Regions from separate parts of the Homo sapiens genome. Here region 2 is linked to region 1. Evidence: fine-mapped expression QTL. A gene starts in region 1. The other region holds a variant in brackets. All regions are shown on one strand. Distances are from middle to middle. Region 1 holds the start of CCDC8 (coiled-coil domain containing 8 subunit of 3M complex). Region 2 has its middle 8.0 kb from the start of PNMA8A.

What was found. PIP is the estimated chance that this variant, and not a neighbour inherited with it, causes the effect.
Region 2: its variant is fine-mapped to the expression of CCDC8 in esophagus muscle (GTEx, PIP 0.97).

The regions. Positions count from the first base shown.
Region 1 is chr19:46,411,050-46,416,414 of GRCh38, reverse strand. It overlaps CCDC8 (coiled-coil domain containing 8 subunit of 3M complex), which reads left to right and starts at 2,851. Exons shown (of 1, transcript NM_032040.5): 1 at 2,851-5,365. The coding sequence starts at 3,605. The coding sequence ends at 5,221. RefSeq lists enhancers at 311-1,143, 1,144-1,977, 3,644-4,477.
Region 2 is chr19:46,460,912-46,466,276 of GRCh38, reverse strand. No RefSeq gene overlaps it. Among named protein-coding and RNA genes, the nearest start is that of PNMA8A, 8.0 kb to the left of the region's middle. The variant G/A (reference allele first, on the strand shown) is at 2,751.

The sequences.
Region 1 (5,365 bases):
CGCTCGCTGAGACCTTAACGTCCCCTAAGCCCCCACATCTTTTCTTTCCCTCTGGCCCGTCTCTTTTTCCTCCGTTCCCTCTTTAAAAATTTGCCTGGTTCCTTTATGAGTTAAATAAGATCACATTTATTTATTTATTTGAGACGGAGTCTCGCTCTGTCGCCCAAGGTGGAGGGCAGTGGCGCGATCTTGGCTCACTGCAACCTCCGCCTCCCAGTTCAAGCGATTCTTCTGCCTCAGCCTCCCCAGTAGCTGGGATTACAGGCATGTGTCACCATGCCCGGCTAATTCTTATATTTTTGTTCGTTTCTTTTTTTTGTTTGTTTGTTTTTGAGACGGAGTTTCGCTCTTGTTGCCCAGGCTGGAGTGCAATGGCACGGTCTCAGCTCACTGCAACCTCTGAATCCCGGATTCAAACGATTCTCCTGCCTGAGCCTCCGGAGTAGCTGGGATTACAGGCATGCGCCACCAAGACAGGCTAGTTTTGTAGTTTTAGTAGAGGCGGGGTTTCACCATGTTGGCCAGGCTGGTCTCAAACTTCTGACCTCAGGTGATCCACCCGCTTCAGCCTCCCAAAATGCTGGGATTACAAGCGTGAGCCACCGCGCCCGGCAATTTTTGTATTTTTTAGTAGAGATGGGGTTTTGCCATGTTGACCAGGCTGGTCTCAAACTCCGGACCTCAGGTGATCCGCCCGCCTCAGCCTCCCAAAGTGCTGGATTAAAGGCGTGAGCCACGGCGCCCAGCCTGAGATGGAGAATTTTCAAAAGAGTAGAGACAGATCGGACCTAAGTTTTTAAAAGATGCCCCCAGCTTCTGGATGGGGCCTGGATTGCAAGCAGTGATGGGGAGGCGGGAAGCCCAGTGAGGGGGCTTTGTACACATCCAGGCAAGAGTGGCTGCAAGTATTGTGGCTGCTAAGTGGTTAAATGGTGCAACACATTTAGGAGAAGGGGATTAGCTGTGTCTTTAGCGTCAGCTAGTGTTTTAAATGCTAGTGCCCAAGATCTGGTTCTAATATTATATTAGATCCACCACTCAGAGCTGTGCAACTTCAGACCAGCCTCAGTTTCACCGTCTGTAAAAAGATGATTGATGGCACTGGCCTTACCATGTACCTCTGAGGGTTCCTAACAACGAGGCCTATTCAACATGTCTCTGGATGCCTGGTTCCAAAGATGTGGACCAATGCTAGTCGCATGTCCTGTAGCAGGAGGAGCCACGGACAAAACCCCTCAGACACTGGGTTAAGGAAGGATTTGGCTTTTTCGGCCGGGAGCTTCGGCAGACTCGCCTCTCAACTGGCGGGAGCTTCGGTAGACTCGCGTCTCAAGAACCGAGCTCCCGGCCGAATGCGACTAGCATTGGTTCACATCTTGATTCTTTTTTTTCTTTCTTTCTTTCTTTTTTTTTTTTTGAGACGGAGTCTTGCTCTGTCGTCCAGGCTGGAGTGCAGTGGTGCGATCGCGGCTCACTGCAACCTCCGCCTCCCGGGTTCAAGAGATTCTTCTGCCTCAGCCTCCCGAGTAGCTGGGACTACAGGCACGTACCACCACGCGCGGCTAATTTTTTTGCATTTTTAGTAGAGACAGGGTTTCACCGCGTTAGCCAGGATGGTCTTGTCTTGATCTCCTGACCTCGTGATCTGCCCGCCTCAGCCTCCCAAAGGGCTGGGATTACAGGCGTGAGCCACCGCGCCTGGCCATCTTGACTCTTTGGTCGACACAAAAGGCAGACTATTCTGGATTCAAATCCAAACTCAACCACTCCCCATGGCTGTGACCTTGAGAGTGTGGTTTTATGTCCTTGGGCCTCAGTTTCCTCAGCTGTCTAATGGGAATTGTACTCATGCTACCAGTCTCCTGTTATAGCAAGGATTTCCTGAGTTCATTCATAGAAAGCACTGGGAATGGTGCCTACTACATAGGAAGCGCCTCATAAACCGTGCCTATCCTTAGCCATCTCATTCTTTTTTCGAAGTTGCAAAATATTTCACTGTAAGATACTACCATAAAATAGAGGCAGTCTCTACTCGTGAACTTTTAGGGTTTTTTGTTGTTGTTTATTTGTAGGGGTTTTTTTGCACTTTTGTTTTTTTGAGACAGTCTCCCTCTGTTGCGCAGGCCGGAGTGCAGTGGCGCGATCTCTGCAACCTCCACCTCCCAGGTTCACGCCATTCTCCTGCCTCAGCCTCTCGCGTAGCTTGGGACTACGCACGCGCACCACCACACCCGGGGTAGAGACGAGGGTTTCACCATGTTGGGCAGGCTGGTCTCGAACTCCTGGCCTCAAGTGTTCCACCCACCTGGGCCTCCCAAAGTGCTGGCATTACAGGCATGAGCCACCGCGCCTGGCCATGAACATTTGGGTTTATTCATCCCCTCAAAAATATGTATTGAGCCCTGACCTGCCAAGCGCCACAGTGGGACTGTTGCAGTCAGGTACCCATTTCTCTACCCACGCATATAGGTGTACGGGTACCGATAGTCGCGTGAATTTAAAATGCTAATCTGTGGTGCCAGTGGCTCTCAAAAAGTAGAATCCACTAGCACACCCACCTCCCGGACTTGGCTGGAAACTTGCACATTTCGGATGGCAGGTTTGGGAACCGCTGCCTTTCAGGAAAGGTGCTGACGTGGGCCACTGCCGCTTCGCTGGGAAGCAATGGGCCCAGCTAGGCCCGGGGCGCGGCCACACCCCTGTGGGGGAGGGGAAGGAGGCCGCCCCGAAGGGAGTGGACAGCCCCCCTGTCAGTCTTCCAGAGTCTGGGAGTGTAAGATGAGACGGGGGAAGGTGGGCCTCATTCTGGCGGAGGGCGAGGAGGAACTTCCTGCCCGCGCGCTCCACGGTGCAGAGCTCTAAGCGCGCGGGCTGGCAGGCTGCGGCGCGTCAAGGTCAGCCTGGAGCTGGGTGGCGGCCTGCCTGGGGGCGGGGGACCCTACTGGAGGCCCGGGCTGGGGCCTCCCAGCGCCTCGGCCATATTGAATAGCTTCGACTGGACCGTCTTTGTCTGCGAAGTCCTGTCCCAAGTTCCAGCCGCGTCCCTGGGGCCTGGGGCAGGAAGAGTCGCTGGCAGCCCGCGCGCCCCAACTTGGAGCTGGGACACCACGTTTCCAGCTTGGAGTGGGCCTTGAGCCTTGGGACTGACCTCGCCCCCGGCTCACGTAGGCATCCTGGAAATTGATTCCCCCAAGTCCTTGGTGGGGGAGCCGGACTTGGTCAAGACTGTACTTGTTGCAGGCGAAGAGATTGGAGGCGTTTGGCTCGTCCCTGGCTAGGGAGGTGAGACTCTCCGGTCAGCGTTGCTGGAACTCCCCCCATCCAGTCCCTCCCTCAAGACTAAGGGCTACAGTAGTTTGTTGGGGCTCATTGCCCCCTCACCCCAGATATCACCCTGGAGATCTTAAAGACTCTCGAGAAAAGCCACGTGGGGGGCTGGTTCCCCTGGGGCTTCCTGCCGTCCCCCGACTGCCTCATTCTTTGGAGCGTCCCCGATGTCTGCAAAGATGTGGATTTGGACGTCCTCGTGGAAGCCCTAAAGCCCGTGGGGACATTTAAGAAGATCGGCAAGGTGTTCCGCAAGGAGGAGGACTCCACGGTGGGGATGCTGCAGATCGGGGAGGACGTCGACTATTTGCTCATCCCCCGGGAGGTCAGGCTGGCTGGGGGCGTCTGGAGAGTCATCTCTAAGCCCGCCACCAAGGAAGCAGAATTTCGGGAGCGGCTGACCCAGTTCCTGGAAGAAGAGGGCCGCACCCTGGAGGACGTGGCCCGCATCATGGAGAAGAGCACCCCGCACCCGCCCCAGCCCCCCAAAAAGCCCAAGGAGCCCCGAGTGAGGAGGAGAGTGCAGCAGATGGTGACTCCTCCGCCCCGGCTGGTCGTGGGCACGTACGACAGCAGCAACGCCAGCGACAGCGAGTTCAGCGACTTCGAGACCTCCAGAGACAAGAGCCGCCAGGGCCCGCGGCGGGGCAAGAAGGTGCGCAAAATGCCCGTCAGCTACCTGGGCAGCAAGTTCCTGGGAAGCGACCTGGAGAGTGAGGATGATGAGGAACTGGTCGAGGCCTTCCTCCGGCGACAGGAGAAGCAGCCCAGCGCGCCGCCTGCCCGCCGCCGCGTCAACCTGCCAGTGCCCATGTTTGAGGACAACCTGGGGCCTCAGCTGTCCAAAGCGGACAGGTGGCGGGAGTATGTCAGCCAGGTGTCCTGGGGGAAGCTGAAGCGGAGGGTGAAGGGTTGGGCGCCGAGGGCGGGCCCCGGGGTGGGCGAGGCCCGGCTGGCCTCCACCGCAGTGGAGAGCGCAGGGGTATCATCGGCGCCAGAGGGCACCAGCCCGGGGGATCGCTTGGGAAACGCGGGAGATGTTTGTGTGCCCCAGGCTTCCCCTAGGCGATGGAGGCCCAAGATCAACTGGGCCTCCTTTCGGCGCCGCAGGAAGGAGCAGACAGCACCCACAGGTCAGGGGGCAGACATCGAGGCTGATCAGGGGGGAGAGGCTGCAGATAGTCAAAGGGAAGAGGCCATAGCTGACCAGCGGGAAGGGGCTGCAGGTAATCAGAGGGCAGGGGCCCCAGCTGACCAGGGGGCAGAGGCTGCAGATAATCAGAGGGAAGAGGCTGCAGATAATCAGAGGGCAGGGGCCCCAGCTGAGGAGGGGGCAGAGGCTGCAGATAACCAGAGGGAAGAGGCTGCAGATAATCAGAGGGCAGAGGCCCCAGCTGACCAGAGGTCACAGGGCACAGATAACCACAGGGAAGAGGCTGCAGATAATCAGAGGGCGGAGGCCCCAGCTGACCAGGGGTCAGAGGTTACAGATAATCAAAGGGAAGAGGCCGTACATGACCAGAGGGAAAGGGCCCCAGCTGTCCAGGGTGCAGATAATCAGAGGGCACAGGCCCGGGCTGGCCAGAGGGCAGAGGCTGCACATAATCAGAGGGCAGGGGCCCCAGGTATCCAGGAAGCTGAAGTCTCAGCTGCCCAAGGGACCACAGGAACAGCTCCAGGAGCCAGGGCCCGGAAACAGGTCAAGACAGTGAGGTTCCAGACCCCTGGACGCTTTTCGTGGTTTTGCAAGCGCCGGAGAGCCTTCTGGCACACTCCCCGGTTGCCAACCCTGCCCAAGAGAGTCCCCAGGGCAGGAGAGGCCAGGAACCTCAGGGTGCTGAGGGCCGAGGCCAGAGCAGAAGCTGAGCAGGGAGAGCAAGAAGACCAGCTGTGAGGTGAGGGCTAGAGACAGCCCACGGGCCCTCCCTCCAAGTGTGGGAGGGAGAGATGCTCTGCCTCTGAACTTCAAAGTGGAGGTGGAGTGCTGGCCACGTCTCCACCTAACAACCCTCTTTATTCTCTTGTTAAAGTTTTGTTC
Region 2 (5,365 bases), 50 kb before region 1:
GAATAGGTATCTGGTGACGCAAATTACCTCAAAGTACCAGTTTATTTTTTTATAAACAGCTGGAAAATGAAAACCTTTCCCTCCCTTCCTATTCCCTCACACAGAAGCCAAGGTCTTTTTTTTTTTTTTTTTTTGAGATGGAGTTTCGCTCTGTCACCCAGGTGGGAGTGCAGTGGCACAGTCTCAGCCCACTGCAGCCTCTACCTCCTGGGCTCAAGTGATCTGCCCACCTCGGCCTCCCAAAGCGTTGGGATTACAGGTGTAAGCCACCATGCCAAGCCAGAAGCTGAGGTCTTTTAGCTAAAAATATAGTTTTCTTCTGGCCCTCCCCTGCCCCTCCCCAGGAACTCCTGAACCAGGGTGGCCACTACATCAGTCACTTGGAATCTGTTCAAGGTACCATTTCGTGGCTCTACCTGCTGATTCAGGATCTCTTCGGGGTTGTACATAGTTATCTGCGTCTTAAACAGTTTCTCCTGAGAATTTTTTTTTTTTTTTTTTGAGACGGAGTCTCGCTCTGTCTCCTAGGCTGGAGTGCAGTATCATGATCTCAGCTCACTGCAACCTCTGCCTCCCGGGTTCAAGCGATTCTCCTGCCTCAGCCTCCCAAGTAGCTGGGACTACAGGGGTGCGCCACCACGCCCAGCTAATATTTTTGTATTTTTTTTAGTAGAGATGGAGTTTCACCATGTTGGCCAGGATGGCCTCGATCTCTGATCTCTTGACCTCGTGATCCGCCCACCTCAGCCTCCCAAAGTGCTGGGATGACAGGCGTGAGCCACCACGCCCAGCCAAGAATTCTATTAATAATACAGGTTGGAGAGCTTCAGGTGGAATAATTCAGACTTGGGGAAACGGAAGTGTCCTTAGGGGTCCAGGTTGAGGTTTTGTGAAAGTGAATGGAGATTATGAGGAAAGATGCGAAAGAGACCAAAAGGGAAGCTGGGATTTGAGGACGCGGAGCTCGTTAGGAACTGCCGTGTACTCATAGAAGCATCTGGATGAAGCTCTATTTATTGGGTGCCCCCACACCCCCACAATGGGAAAAGCCCTATTTGACCAAGATGTTTAAGTACCTCCCACAATAATAGTCACTCCTACTGGTTACACCCAGGCTGTCAGTAAAGTATGAAAGGCCTACGTGCCCTAAAAATGGGGGGAATCCAAGGTTGGGGCACATGAAAGCTCTCTTCAAAGAAACCTCATCGCCCCGGGTGGAGGTGTTCTGTTCAGGGGTGCGTCTGGGGAGGCGCTGGCCCGGAGTGTTTGCAGGAAGATGGAGAGCTGTGGATGCCACCAGCAGGGCTCGAGGGCAAAGTGTCCTGGTTGCCCATGCTGCCATTCAAGCAAGGTTCGTTGAGAATCTGCTGTACGACAGCCAGGAGCAAGACAGAGTCCTGGCTTCCTGGAGCCTGACGTTTGAGTGAGGACAGACCTTATATAGACACAGGTGGAGGGGTGGGGAGCTCTGCCGTGAAAAATATAACAGGAAGATAGGCAGGCAAGGTGAGTGTGCAGAAACGGCTGGCTGTCGCTTACAATGGTTGGGGGAGCCTCTCTGGGAACTGGATGTCTGAACAGACCTGAAGGGGGTGAGGGGTGAGACAAGCAGTTGGCCAAGAACGGCCTCCTGGGCAGAGGGAACAGTCATCGTGGAGGGAGGCTCTAATCTGTTTCAGAAAGTGAGTAAGGCTGGGCGCAGTGGCTCACACCTGTAATCCCAGCACTTTGGGAGGCCAAGGCGGGCAGATCACCTGAGGTCAGGAGTTCAAGACCAGCCTGGCCAACATGGTGAAACCCCATCTCTACTAAAAATACAAAAAAATTAGCCAGGTGTGATGGCGCGTGCCTGTGGTCCCAGCTACTTGGGAGGCTGAGGCAGGAGAATTGCTTGAACCCAGGAGGTTGAGACTGCAGTGAGCTGAGATCGCACCACTGCACTCCAGCCTGGGCGACAGAGCAAGACTCTGTCTCAAAAAAATAAAAATAAAAAAGCAAGGAGGAGGTGAGGAGCAAGAGGGCAGGGGGCTTTGGAGGCTGGTGTGCAAAGCCCCACAGGTGCGGCCAGGATGGATTCCAGCTTTAATCTGAGAGATGGGAGCCATGGGAGGGTGCTGAACACAGCGTCAGGATCCTACATAGGTTGTTTCCAGGCTCCCCCTGGAAGCCTGGTGGGGAACAGACTGCAGAGGGTGAGGTGGCAGCTGGGAGCCTAGTGGGGAGGTGACAGTAGCTGGACCCAGGAGGCCCAAGAAAAAGCTGCCCATTTGGGGATCTGGTTAGCAGAGCTGCCAAGGAGAAAGAAGTGGGTTGTGTTGATTTACTTATTCATTTATTCCTTTTTTTTACATTTTCATTTTTTAGTTAAAATAAAACATTTATATACAGTGAAATGGACAGATCTTAAGTGAACGGTCTGATAAGGATAAGTTTGGACATAGGCAGGCACCTGTGTAACCCACCCCTGCGACAAGTTACAGAACAATATCATCATCCTAGAAAGCCTCCCTGTGCCCCTTCCCAGTCGGTCCCCGCCGCAGCTCTCAGAGGTGAGCACTGTAATGATTTTTCCAGCCAAAGCTCAGTGTGTCTGTCCCAGGAGTGCTGTAAGTGGAGTCATACAGCATATGGTTTTTTTGGTGTCTGGCTTCTTTTCCTCAGCATAGTGTTTTTGTTTGTTTTGTTTTTGTTTTTGTTTTTTAGGGAGTTTCACTCTTTTTGCCCAGGCTGGAGTGCAATGGCGCCATCTC[G/A]GCTCACTGCAACCTCCGCCTCCCGGGTTCAAGTGATTCTCCTGCCTCAGCCTCCCGAGTAGCTGGGATTACAGGTGCCCACCACCACGCCTGGCTAATTTTGTAGTTTTAGTAGAGACAGAGTTTCTCCATGTTGGCCAGGCTGGTCTCAAACTCCTGACCTCAGGTGACCCGCCCACCTCAGCCTCCCAAAGTGCTGGGATTACAGGCGTGAGCCACCACGCCCCGGCCTTTTTTTTTTTTTTTTTTTTTGAGACAGCATCTCACTCTGTTGCTCAGGCTGGAGTGCAGTGGCACAGTCTTGGCTCACTGCAACCTCCGCCTGCCAGGTTCAAGCGATTCTCCTGCCTCAGCCTCCCAAGTAGCTGGGACTACAGGTGTGCACCACCACGCCCGGCTAATTTTTGTATCTTTCATAGAGACGGGGTTTCATCATGTTGCCCAGGCTGTTCTCGAACTCCTGGCCTCACGTGATCCACCCGCCTCAGCCTCCCAAAGTGCTGTGATTACAGGTGTGAGCCACCGTGCCCGGCCAGCATCGTGTTTTTGAGATTCATGTGTGTTTGAGTAGTATTTTCAATTATTTAAAAACAAAATTTTTTTAAGAGTCAGGCTCTTGCTCCATCATGTAGGCTGGAGTGCAATTGTGTGGTCACAGCTCACTGCAGCCTCAAACTCCTGGGCTTAAATGATCTTCCTGAGTAGCTAGGACTGCAGATGCGCACCACCATGCCCAGCTAACTTTTTTTTTTTGGTAGAGATGAGGTCTCACTATGTTGCCCAGGCTGGTCTTGAATGCCTGGCCTCAAACAATCCTCCTGCCTCAGTCTTTTGAAGTGCTGGGATTACAGGCATGAGACACTGTGCCCCACCACGACCTACATATTTTTAAATTACTTTTTTTGTTTGTTTGTTTTTTGAGATGGAGTCTCGCTCTGTTGCCCAGGCTGGACTGCAGTGGTGCGATCTCAGCTCACTGCAAGCTCTGCCTCCTGGGTTCACACCATTCTCCTGTCTCAGCCTCCCGAGTAGCTGGGACTACAGGCACCCGTCACCATGCCCGGCTAATTTTTTTTTTTTTTTTGTATTTTTAGTAGAGATGGGGTTTCACTGTGTTAGCCAGGATGGTCTTGATCTCCTGACCTCGTGATCTGCCCGCCTCAGCCTCCCAAAGTGCTAAGATTACAGGCATGAGCCACCGCACCCGGCCAATTTACTTTTTAATATTTTCCCCACATTAAAAAATAAAACATCACAGACTTTTTAAATTTTATTTATTTAATTTTTTTTTGAGACAGGGTCTTGCTCTTCACCCAGGCTCAAGTGCAGTGGCGTGATCTTGGCTCATGGCAGCCTTGACTTTCCAGGCTCAAGCCATCCTCTTATATCAGCCCCTCTGCAAGTAGCTGGGACTACAGGTGCAAACCACCATGCCCAGCTATTTTTGTATTTTTTGGTAGAAACAGGGTTTTGCCATGTTGCCCAGGCTGACTGCAGACTTTTAAAAGCACCCAAATGCATTATTCAAGCAACATTAGCCACTGTGGTCAGATTAACGATAATGCAATAATTTTTTTCTGTTCATCTCTGTTTTAGATTTGCACTTTTTGTAATGGTATGAACAATTAAGAGGATTAGGGAACTGTGCTGGTCTGTGCTAAAGTTCATCACAGGCAGGGCACATCCAAGCCTTTAAACTTGCTCCCAGGTGTCCTGGTTCTAAATAGCACATCTGTCCCACTTAATTAAACTCAGGCATGACTCTTGCAAACCCCTTGGGTCCTGGCTCTTGTTCAGGCCTGAATGGCCACATAATAGCAAGAGAATGCGTGGCAGGTCTCAGCTTGGCAACATGACATGAGGCATCATCCCAGTGCCCAGGGTAAGATTTGGTGTTTCTTCTGTGACTCTCCTTTTTTTTTTTTTTTTTTTTTTGAGACTGTGTCTCGCTCTGTTGTCCAGGCTGGAGTACAGTGGTGCAATTTCAGCTCACTACAACCTCTGCCTCCTGGGCTCAAGCCATCCTCCTGCCTCAGCCTCCTGAGTAGCTGGGATTACAGACATGCAAAGTGCTGGGATTACAGGCGTGAGCCACTACGCCCGGCCAATTTTAATTTTTAAAAGACAGGATTTCACTCTGTTGCCCAGGCTTGAGTACAGTGGCATGATCACGGCTCACTGCAGCCTCCACCTCCTGGGTTTAAGCAATCCTCCTGCCTCAGCCTCCTGAGTAGCTGTGACCCCAAGAGCACACCACCTTGCCCAGCTAATTGTTTTACTTTTTTTTTTTTTAATAGAGACAGCTCCCTATGTTGCCCAGGCTTGTCCTGGCCTCAAGCTGTCCTGCTGCCTCAGCCTTCCAAAGTGCTGAGATAACAGGCATGCACCACCACACCCAGCAGAGTCCCACTTTTCATCTTGTGTCTTTGAATATTTCAACCACAAACAATAAATACTTATATTCATTTATTTTAAAGTAACCAGAGATAGTACAACCACTTTGGAGAACTGTTTGGAAATTTATTAAAAAGTTAGACATACCCTGGCTGGGCTCAGTGGCTCACACCTGTAATCCCAGCACTTTGGGAGGCTGAGGCGGGAGGATCACTTGAGGA